Linked DNA regions of Homo sapiens: region 2 is linked to region 1. A link means that fine-mapping ties the variant in region 1 to the expression of a gene that starts in the linked region. Tissue or cell type: B cells. Region 1 holds a variant in brackets; the other region holds the start of a gene. All regions are shown on one strand. Distances are between the middles of the regions.

Region 1 (5,265 bases):
ATTTTGTTGCCATGCAGAAGGAAGTAAATAGATACATGCATCCACAGGTTAGCTCAGGTGATGACCTACAAGGATGCTTGACTCATCCATGGATGGCACAGAGACACCCTCCACAGAGTGTGGCGTCAGCAGCCTGCAATTGACTTCCAACTTGGCCACCTCCTCGTTTTGACTGTGAACTGAAATCTTACAAAAGAAGGGATGGCAAAGGAAAAACTAAACAGAAGGAAGATTTAGAAACAAAAGACAGGTGGTTTGGAAAAAGTGAAACTTATAAAAAGAGTAGTCAAGCAGAGGAATAAAACCAAGATCTTTGCTTCCTTCAGTTCTCTTTTGGTAACTAAGACTTAAAATATGAAGTCTTGAAAATTAGGGGGAATGTGCATATTCTTCATCTTTCTATTATTTTTAAATTTCAATATATGGATTTTTAAATGTTTAAACAATATGTCAGGAATTACAAATGCTTTTGCTAACAAGCTTTGTAGAGCTAAGCTGCCATTATTAGCATCTTGGGGAAGTACTTCCAGTGTGCCCACCATATGTTCCTCTGGAGTGTTTTCTGGTTTTGTTTCTGCACAAGTTGTGTTCTCAGAGCATCCTGCAAGAGATGATATAGAGAATCCCAAGACGATAGAAATGTAGAGATAGGCTAAGATGCCCCAAAATAAATCTTTGCCTGTTCTGTTTGCCCAGTACATGGTGAAAGGCTGTGAGATTGAGATGGAATGGTAGACAGAGCTCAGTTAATAGGAAAAGTTCTGGAGTATGCTGGCAGAAGTGTAATTCAGCTCAAAATGCACCTCCCTCTCCCTTCATTCACGGGCCCTACACCAGTGAAGCAGCTTGAGGTTCTTATCATTCTGACTGGAAGCTCATAGAATAACAGAGGGAAGGGTGTTAGCAGCTTAAATAAAGAATTAGCTGTAGATCCAAGACAGTAGGAAACCAGAAAATAAGAAGTATACTGGGACATCAGGATGGGCACCTGGAGCCGGGCGTCATATGTTTAAAGCCTAGTTGCTTCCTTACCTTGCCTGAACAGGTGGTGGGAGCAAGAATGCTCATGTGTTGGTTACCAAGACAAATAACCCTGAGGCTTCAGGAGTCTGGGAGTTTGAAACTTGAAGATACTAGAAGACAACAGGCATCCAAGCTCAAAATAATGAAACTGGAGTGGAAGCCTCAGACACACCTACCAGCTGACACTGCCTTCACCCTTGCTTGCAATTTGACCCTGAAAATTCAGGGAAATGGGAGTGACAGTTCACCCCTACAGGACAAGAATAGTTTTCTTTATTTTTTAAATAATATTTTTATTTATTTTATTTTTTTAGATGGAGTTTTGCTCTTGTCACCCAGGCTGGAGTGCAATAGTGCGACTCGGCTCCCTGCAACCTCTGCCTCCCAGGTTCAAGTGATTCTCCTGCTTCAGCCTCCCGAGTAGCTGGGATTACAGGCGCCTGCCACCATGCCCAGCTAATTTTTGTATTTTTAGTAGAGACAGGGTTTCACCACATTGGCCAGGCTGGTCTGAAACTCCTGACCTCAGGTGATCCACCCGCCTCAGCCTCCCAAAGTGCTGGGATTATAGGCGTGAGCCACTGCACCCAGCCAAGAATAGTTTCCTAGTGTAACCAACGACTCTTACTCTTTCTGGTTGGGTACAATGAACTCCCTGAGTGGTATCCTAAGATCCACCACCTGAGGCCCCTCATGCCTCCATTAGCAGGAAGACCAAATTTTGTCCCACCAGCTCATCTTTCATGATATTCCAGAGCCCCAGAGGGCTTCCCCCGTACAATGGGTCAGTCCTGTCACTGTTCCCTCTTAGGAAGATACCAGAAGTGTGGACATTCCATCAAAGAGACCTCTTCTCTGCTGTTGTTACCACTGCATGCTGTAACTAGAAGTCAAGCATCTCTGCGCAGTCCTGCTTACTTAAGAAAAACCCCATGTCTTCTTTAGCAACTTCAAGATTCATGTATCAGTGATTATTGGGAAGAACTGACCTCCTCCAGCTTTCCTGGAGCTGCAGCTCCTTCCTCTGTGTTTCTATAGTATGCTTTTAAGCCACACCTCTTTGGCAGCACTTTCCACATAGTCTTGTTCTTTACATTTATCTGCCCATCTTTGTGAGCGCTCAGAACATGTATAGTGCCTAGTTGGTAGAGGGGGTAAATATGGGTTGAATAAATGAATGACTG[A/T]ATGCTACCTTAAGAAATATCTAGAAACCTTGCTTATATTCATACAGACCTGGAAGTGAGTAAAGGAGAAATCTGGGGAGTAAAAGCAGGCTAAAATCTTCAAGTTGCATAAAAAGCGTCAAAAGATGCTATTTAAGGCCTGGCGCAGTGGCTCACACCTGTAATCCCAGCACTTTGGGAGGCCGAGGCAGGCAGATCACTAGGTCAGGAGATCAAGACCATCCTGGCTAACATAGTGAAACCCTGTCTCTACTAAAAATACAAAAAAAAAAAAAAAAAAAAAAAAAGCCAGTCGCGGTGGCAGACGCCTGTAGTCCCAGTCTTAGCTACTGAGGAGGCTGAGGCAGGAGAATGGCCTGAACCTGGGAGGTGAAGCTTGCAGTGAACGGAGATCATGCACTCCAGCCTGGGTGACAGAGCGAGACTCCATCTCCAAAAAAAAAAAAAAAAGGTGCAATTTAATTATTACTTTGATAATTAGAAAGATATATCAGTATTTTTTAAATTAAAGATAAGTGGTTTCTTCAATCCTCTGCAGTTATTGGAAAAGGTGGCTACCATGACTATCATTTTACAAAGCAGAACCTGAGGCTCAGGTTGGTTGAGTGACTTTCCTAAGGTAACCACAGCTAGTAAGCAGTAAAGGTAGGTTCTGCACTGAGGACTACCTGCCTCCACATCTGTTTCCACTAGACCACATTGCTTCCTTCTGGCCTCTCACATAAAGTTATTGATTCATTGGCTGATTCATTCATTCATTTGCTAAGCTCCTAGCTTGGACTAGACACTGCTCTAGGCATTGGGGATAGAAAGATACATAAAGGTCATACTCTGGCAGCACAGAGGAGTAATTTATCCTGCCTGGTGGGTCAGAGAAGGGTTTACAGAACAGGGGCATCTGAGCTAGGTCTACCTCTCTTGATTAAGTCAATTATTCCCTCTTGTGGCTTAAGCTACATCCGATATGATACTGTTACTTGCAACAAGAAGAGTCCTCATACATACTGTGTGGATGTACCCATATTTATAAACTAATCTCATATTGTTGGACATTTAGGTTGTTTCCAAAATTTCAATATTATGAACAAGATTATGATGAACTTTTACATATGCATCTTTGTGTACATGTCCTGCAGGGTCAAAAGTTATGTCTTTGATTTCTGTTACCCTATTGCCTTCCTAAAAGATTTCTCAATTACTATTCCACCATCATTGTAACAGAATGCCAAGTTTTCCCAAGCAGCCTGACTTCTAGTTGCTGAGCTCTGTATTAGGATCAAGATAATTTGCATGAAACTACTTTACAAATAGTTAACTTTTTCTTCATTACAAAGCACAGCCTTTTCCTTAAGAATGGAACAAGTATCATTAAGTGCTTCCTATGTGCCGGGCATTGCACTAAGAACTATATATACATCATGCTTATTAAACTTCACAAGCCTTTGAGGAATGGACTGTTATAATCCCCATTTTACAGAAGAGAAAACTGAGGCTCATAGAATTGAACTAATTTATCCAAGGTCATATGCAGTCAGCATTTGAACTCAGGTCAGATTTCAGATCCTCACTTTTATCATTACTGGTTTAAGTTGAAATGTGGAAGTATGAAATAGTGGGGGTGTCAGATATGTACCTAGTTAACAATACTAGCAGGCAAAGTTAGATAATAGACGCTCTAAATATATAAGTATGGAAGGTAAATGTGTGCCCTTTCTAGAATGACTCAGTCCCAGCTCCATGATAGCAGCTGAAGGTGAAGAAATAAGTAACTGAGAAACAATGATATCCCAATATGTTACCCCTCAATTTCCTTTCTCCCCTCTATGCATATCCTAACTCATCACAAGCGATCCTCACTAAAGAAAGGACTAGAGATGGGGTTCATCACCTCATCCCCATCAAAATTCCTTGGTTTATAAAAACTGAAAAGATATTAAGATTCCTACTTGATTCTTAATAGTAGTTAATTATTACCTAGTTGTTTGCCCAGTAAAGACCAATTTTTCTCCTTTTTGCCCCTTGTTTTTTAAATCCAAATACCAAAAAACCCCTCATTTAATTATAAATATAATCCATTTTTATGCTACTAAAAATTCAAAATGTGAGTCATACACACCAGAGTCAAATAGTTTTCTCTCTTTCTAGCATCTATTAGGGTACTTTGAAAACTGCTCATAAGTCTTCCTCAACTACCAGCTGGTTTCCTGTCTCCTCCCAGACTGGGGCTCAGGTGACCAAGTCCCAAGGCTGTCAGTCAACACAAGAACAGCCTGACTGGGCTGTGGGCCTGTGGCTCTGAACACACCTGCCACACTCTCATGTCACTCCTGTGGGACAAAGCAGGATGTGCTGGTGGGACACTGCCCAGGTGATGTGAGACCTTGTAGCTTCCTGGTGAAGGGATCTGGGAACCATGCCAGTTTAGTGGATTTATGACTGTGGGTCAGCTTCTAAACCTCAGTTTCCTCATCTACAAAATGGTGATAAATGACATTCTCAAAACCATTGTGGGGACTTAATAATGAGATAATGATATTAAACTCTCAGCCCTGCACCTGGCACATACAGTGTTCAAACATGGCCATTGTGAGTGGCTTTACACTGGGAACCAGGAAGGACAATACATCCATCGTGACCCTGTCTTGGATGCTGGAACTGCTATGTCTTCTCTCTGTTCCCTTGGCTCTGCATGCCTCTGTCCTCCAGGAGATGAGCATAAAAACGGGGGAGCACACAGCACCTCTATTAGCAGCCTCAGTGGCATTGCTGGAGAGTCAACCACTGTCTCCTAGGTACATTCTGTCCTCAGTTGCATATTTTCAACCATTACCCCTGTTTCTGCTCATACCATATTTCCTTACAGCAAATTCTTAGTCCTCATCTCACTTGGACTCCTGCATGGTGATGGCATGAGCACTAGAGCTGCAGGATTTAAGAAACGGAGGGAAAATGATGGATTCACATTCACTTGGACATAACAGGCATCTACTTTCATCAAAGCAGAAGGTAAAAGAACATTCCTAGTCTGTTTCAAATTATTTAAAGTGACGTTCTTGTA
Region 2 (5,000 bases), 210 kb before region 1:
CTTTCTCTCTCTTGCTTTCTTTCCTTTCTTTCTTTTTCTTTCTTTCTTTCCTTCCTTCCTTCTTTCTTTCTTTTCTTTCTCCTTCCTTTCTTCCTTCCTTCTTTCCTTCCTTCCTTCCTTCCTTCCTTCCTCCCTCCCTCCCTCCCTCCCTCTCTCTCTCTTTCTCTTTTTTTCTTTTGGAGTCTTGCTCTGTTGCCTAGGCTGGAGTGCAATGGCACCATCTCAGCTCACTACAACCTCTGCCTCCTGGGTTCAAGCGATTCTCCTGCCTCAGCCTCCTGAGTAGCTAGGATTATAGGCATGTGCCACCAAGCCTGGCTAATTTTTGTATTTTCAGAAGGGATAGGGTTTCGCCATGTTGGCCAGGCTAGTCTTGGACTCCTGACCTCAGGTGATTTGCCCACCTTGGCCTCTGAAAGTACTGGGATTACAGGCGTGAGCCACCATGGCTGGTCTCTTTCTTTTTTGAGACAGGGCCTGGCTCTGTCACCCAGGCTGGAGTGCAGTGGAAAAATCTCAGCTCACTGCAAGCTCTGCCTCCCGGGTTCACACCATTCTCCTGCCTCAGTCTCCTGAGCAGCTGGGACTACAGGTGCCCACCACCATGCCCGGCTAATTTTTTTGTTTTTTAGTAGAGATGGGGTTTCACCATGTTAGCAAGTATGGTCTCGATCTCTTGACCTCATGATCCGCCCACCTCAGCCTCCCAAAGTGCTGGGATTACAGGTGTCAGCCGCCACGCCCGGCCCCAAGAATAAATATTTCAAGGCAAAAGTTACAATAAAGTTATGTGCAAAAGCTATGAAAATGTGAAGATGGGAGCACTAGAGACATTCCAGGGAGGGCAACATTTGAGATGGCCCTTTAGGAATGAGTAGCAATTTACTAGCTAGACAAGGAGATAAAGGCAATTCCAGGTAGGGGAATGGCTATGCAAAGACACAAACATATGCGGTGGTAGGACGTGATTTGAGAATGGGTGTGGTTGCCTAGGATATTCCAGGTAGTCAAGAGATGACAATGGAAGGGAGGGAAGCCAGGGTTTGAACAGCAGCAACAGTTACAGAGGTGAGCATTTCTGGTACTTTCTAGACACCTGATACGGAAACTATGTTACTTATATATGTTATCTCATTTAATCCCCGTTATTATTATTTTTATAGGTAAATAATGTAATTTAAGTTTTTCATTTTGCATGTCAAATGTGAAAATCTGTAAGAGTAAGTAACTTTGATTGTACAACACGTAAAGATCCTTGAAATTAGTTGTAATTAAAAATATTTTGCTCTTTTAAAAATGGGAATTAAACTTTGATTTTTTGTTCTAATTAAAAATGACCATTTTCTTTTTTAAGAATAAAGATATTAGACACTAGTGAACTCATATAATTGCTTTGCAGTTTCCATGGTTGAATATTTTGAAAGTGAAATAAGTTTTCCAGTTTTAAAGTACGGTGTGAAATAGAAGTATTTTATAAGAAATTAGATTATTTAGAATATATAGAATAAATTATATTGTGTCTAATATTAATCGTCATTCCTGTTGATAATCTCAGTTTATAGGTTAAGTGACTTGGCCAAGGTCATGGAATTGCAAGTGATAAAACTTATATTAAAAATATGGGGCAATGATTGTTTGCTTGGCTGATTCTCTCCCTCATCCTTGCTTTAAGATCAAGGATATTGTAGTTTTGCTCATTTGATACCTGTCTGTGACTAACATGCTAAAGAGTTTAGACTTGATCCTCAAGTTAATAAAACCAATGAAAGCTGGACAATAATATGGATATGAGTAGATCATTGTGGCCAAAGGATTGGAGAAGGGGAGCTTGATTGGAAGGGCATGTTAAGAGTCTAGGGGAGATGATATCAACTTCAACAAGTCAGGGATAGTGAGGATAGGGAGGATTGAATGTAACTGATTAATATCTTAGAGGCGCAATAGACAAAACTTGGAGACTGTGCACATGTTGCAGGGTTAAGGGTGAGGCCAAGGCAGGGGCTTGGGCAGCTGAACAGATTGTGACACCAGTGGTGAAAATAGAGAAAACAGGTGAAGGAGCCAGCTGGGTGTTAACGAATGATTTTGGTTTTAGATACCTTAAGATATGATCCCTTCAGAACAATAGCTTGGAGATCACCGTCATCAAAATATCCACTTGCCCAAATCTGTAGTCCCCAGGCCCCTGGAGCAAGGCCTGCTGCCCTGGGTGTCTTGGCAGTTGTTCAAGCACGACTGGAATCTGGCTTAGCATTAGGCCAAGTGAGCACAGAGACTTGCACTGCTGCATATTTAAAATTACTTGTCAGGAAAAGGAGCTACAGAGAAGAGGGGCTGTGACAGGGGAAGGCAAACATCCGCACCGTTCAATAATTCAGCGCAGAGCCGGTCTTGGCTGCTAAGTTACCACCACAAGGAGCATTTTTAAAGTCAAACCGAATTTCCATGAGAAGTCATGCCTGAGCAAGCTGGATCGTTGCCAAAAGACAAGAGAAGACTCCAGACCTTTCTGTAAACAGGCCCTGAGAGATACGGGGTACTGCATGATAAAGCTGTCAGTCTGGTCGCAGCAGCCTGGCATGTGACTCATTTGCATATGTCACTTCCTTTAGCGTAATCCAGTCCATGGGCCTCTAACTTCCAATCCTGTGGGCAAATAAAGCTGTCCAGCACAACCTGTGACGATCAGATTCAGGCTGTATTTAGTGGGGGAGGGATCTGGCCTCATATCCTTCATCTTTATGCTGCTCCACTCCAGCTCACAGCCCCTCCAACTGGATGGAGCTCTTCGAAGGGAGGGGCATTTCAGAGGAGGGTCTCAGGGATAGCCCCTTTGTGGGGCTGGGCCACCAGGTTGGGGAGAGTGGAGCTGCTGGAACTCTGGAGGGACTGGCTGAGCCAGCTTTCCCAGTGCACCCCTCTGGGAGGGCAGGCTCTCGGTGTAGGCTGCCCATCTCCTCGCTCTCCTCTGGCACTGCTCCTATGCCCCCTTGGTTAGCCTGGGAGCCCATACTACCCAGACTTGGGGTCAATAAGCAGAGGACCTGTAAGGAGTCCTTGATGGGATGTACAGCACTGCCCAACCCTGCACAAGGTAGGGTATTGCTGTTTGTTGTGTGGTGAGCTGCCTGCTTATGGCTGGGTTTGGGCCTCCATCCATTTTTATTTTCTTTGAGTTGGTCTCTGGGCAAAGCTTCTCCCAGCAGGCGGAATCTGGCCTGGGGGCTCCAGCTTCTCTCACCTGCCTGGCCTCCCAAGAGCTAGAGAGCTCCACATCTCAACTCATCTATAACTCATTAGCAGAACCATCAGCTAGCAGAAACTAGGAATAATAAAAATGTGCCGTATTTTCACAAGCTGGATGCCAGGCTTGGTGGTCAGGACACAGACTGCTTTCAGCTCCCACATGCCCCTCCTGCTAGCTGCTTTGTGCAGAGTAGTGGCTACATGGCTGCAGGTGAGAGCCCTGCCTGTGAACAGGCCACCAGGATGCTGGGACATACGAGTTGGTAAGTTCGGCTTTACAGACCCTTCTGCCATCCTCCCTCTGCCCTGCCATTATGTAATTCAAAATAAAAATGATACTAACACTTAAAACACAAAACTGATATAGATGCTGAGATTAAAATGATTTCACTTGAGATATCTAGATTGTAAAATTTCAGTTCAGTTCTCACTGAAGCCAAACATTTTTCAGTTTTGTGGGAGATGCCTGCTGGGCTGGGTCTCCAAATCCGTATTTCAGCTACCTATTGAGTCATCCAGCTCTGCACCCAAGGGCCCCAGACCCCAAGACTGCTTTCTTGCCCCTGCCAGCCCCTGTGGCTGGGCCTCTCTGATGCTGCCTGCCTCTCAGGGCCTGCCCATCCCTCCTCGATTCTATCATCCTGCTTAAGGAAACTCCTCAGACGCTAGCTAACAGGGCGTATGTCTGGCTTCTTCTTTCTCTTTCATGCTGGTTCCCTGAGTTTGGAGGAAACGTCTGGATTCACTCGAGGGCTCCATCCCAGAAGTGACACAGTTTTGCCTGCGCTCTTTTGTGTTTAGATTCCAAATCTTTCCTGATAATGTCTGAATCTCAATTTTAGTCTTGCCAATAACTGGATCCATAGTCATCCATCACACTTGGGGAGTCAGGACAGTGGAGAAAGAAAGTTTAGGAACTCTGGCTTCCTTTGTTCCCTTTGGTGGCTTTAAAATAAGTCCATGCATTATTTGATACTCCTCCCTTCAAGAGATGGAGCTGAATTCTCCTCTACAGTATGGGCTAGACTTAAGAAGTTGCTTCTTTTAAACAGAATGTGGCTTCTTTCTTGCTCTTTCTCTTGGATCAATCATTCTGGGGGAAGCCAGATACCATACTATGAGGACACTCGAATAGCCCTAGGGAGAGGCTCTTATGGTGAGGAACTAAGGCCTCCTGCCAGCAACCAGCAATGGACAGTCATACGAAAAAACCACCTAGGATTGGGAACTCCTGTCCCAGTCCAGCCTTCAGATGACTACAGCCCAGTCTTTTTTTTTTTTTTTTGAGATGGAGCCTTGCTCTGTTGCCCAGGCTGGAGTGCAGTGGCATGATCTTGTCTCACTGCAACCTCCGCCTCCCGGGTTCAAGCAGTTCTCCTGTTTCAGCCTCCCGAGTAGCTGGGATTACAGGCATGTGTCACCATGCCTGGCTAATTTCTGTATTTCTGTTTAAATACCTGTTTAAGTTCATGTATTTAAACATGTTCTAAAAATACAGAACATGTTTCAACATGTTTCATCATGTTGGCCAGGCTGGTCTCGAACTCCTGTCTTAAAGTGATCCACCCTCCTTGGCCTCCCAAAGTGCTGAGATTACAGGCATGAGCCACTGTGCCTGGCCCCCGTCAACATTTTGAGCACAGCCTAGTGAGAGATCCTGCACCACAGCCTGCCAGCTAAGCCACTTCCCAAATCCCAACTTTGTGAGATAATAAAATGTTAACTGTTTTAAGCTGCCAAATTATAAGGTAATT

Which allele goes with the higher level. Positions count from the first base shown, and alleles are read on the strand shown. Sizes are in standard deviations (SD) of each study's normalised expression.
With allele A in place of T in region 1, the expression in B cells of the gene that starts at base 2,727 in region 2 is higher (large effect, 1.9 SD a copy in Fairfax 2012).

Evidence for each region. PIP is the estimated chance that this variant, and not a neighbour inherited with it, causes the effect.
Region 2: it holds the start of SLEAR, and the variant in region 1 is fine-mapped to the expression of SLEAR in B cells (Fairfax 2012, PIP 0.95).

The regions. Positions count from the first base shown.
Region 1 is chr8:101,255,969-101,261,233 of GRCh38, forward strand. It overlaps LOC107984005 (a long non-coding RNA gene), which reads left to right. Exons shown (of 5, transcript XR_928468.3): 2 at 5,071-5,213. Among named protein-coding and RNA genes, the nearest start is that of LINC02844, 4.3 kb to the right of the region's middle. The variant A/T (reference allele first, on the strand shown) is at 2,208.
Region 2 is chr8:101,049,328-101,054,327 of GRCh38, forward strand. SLEAR (STAT1 regulated ILF2 complex interacting lncRNA) reads left to right here and starts at 2,727. Exons shown (of 3, transcript NR_033962.1): 1 at 2,727-3,509.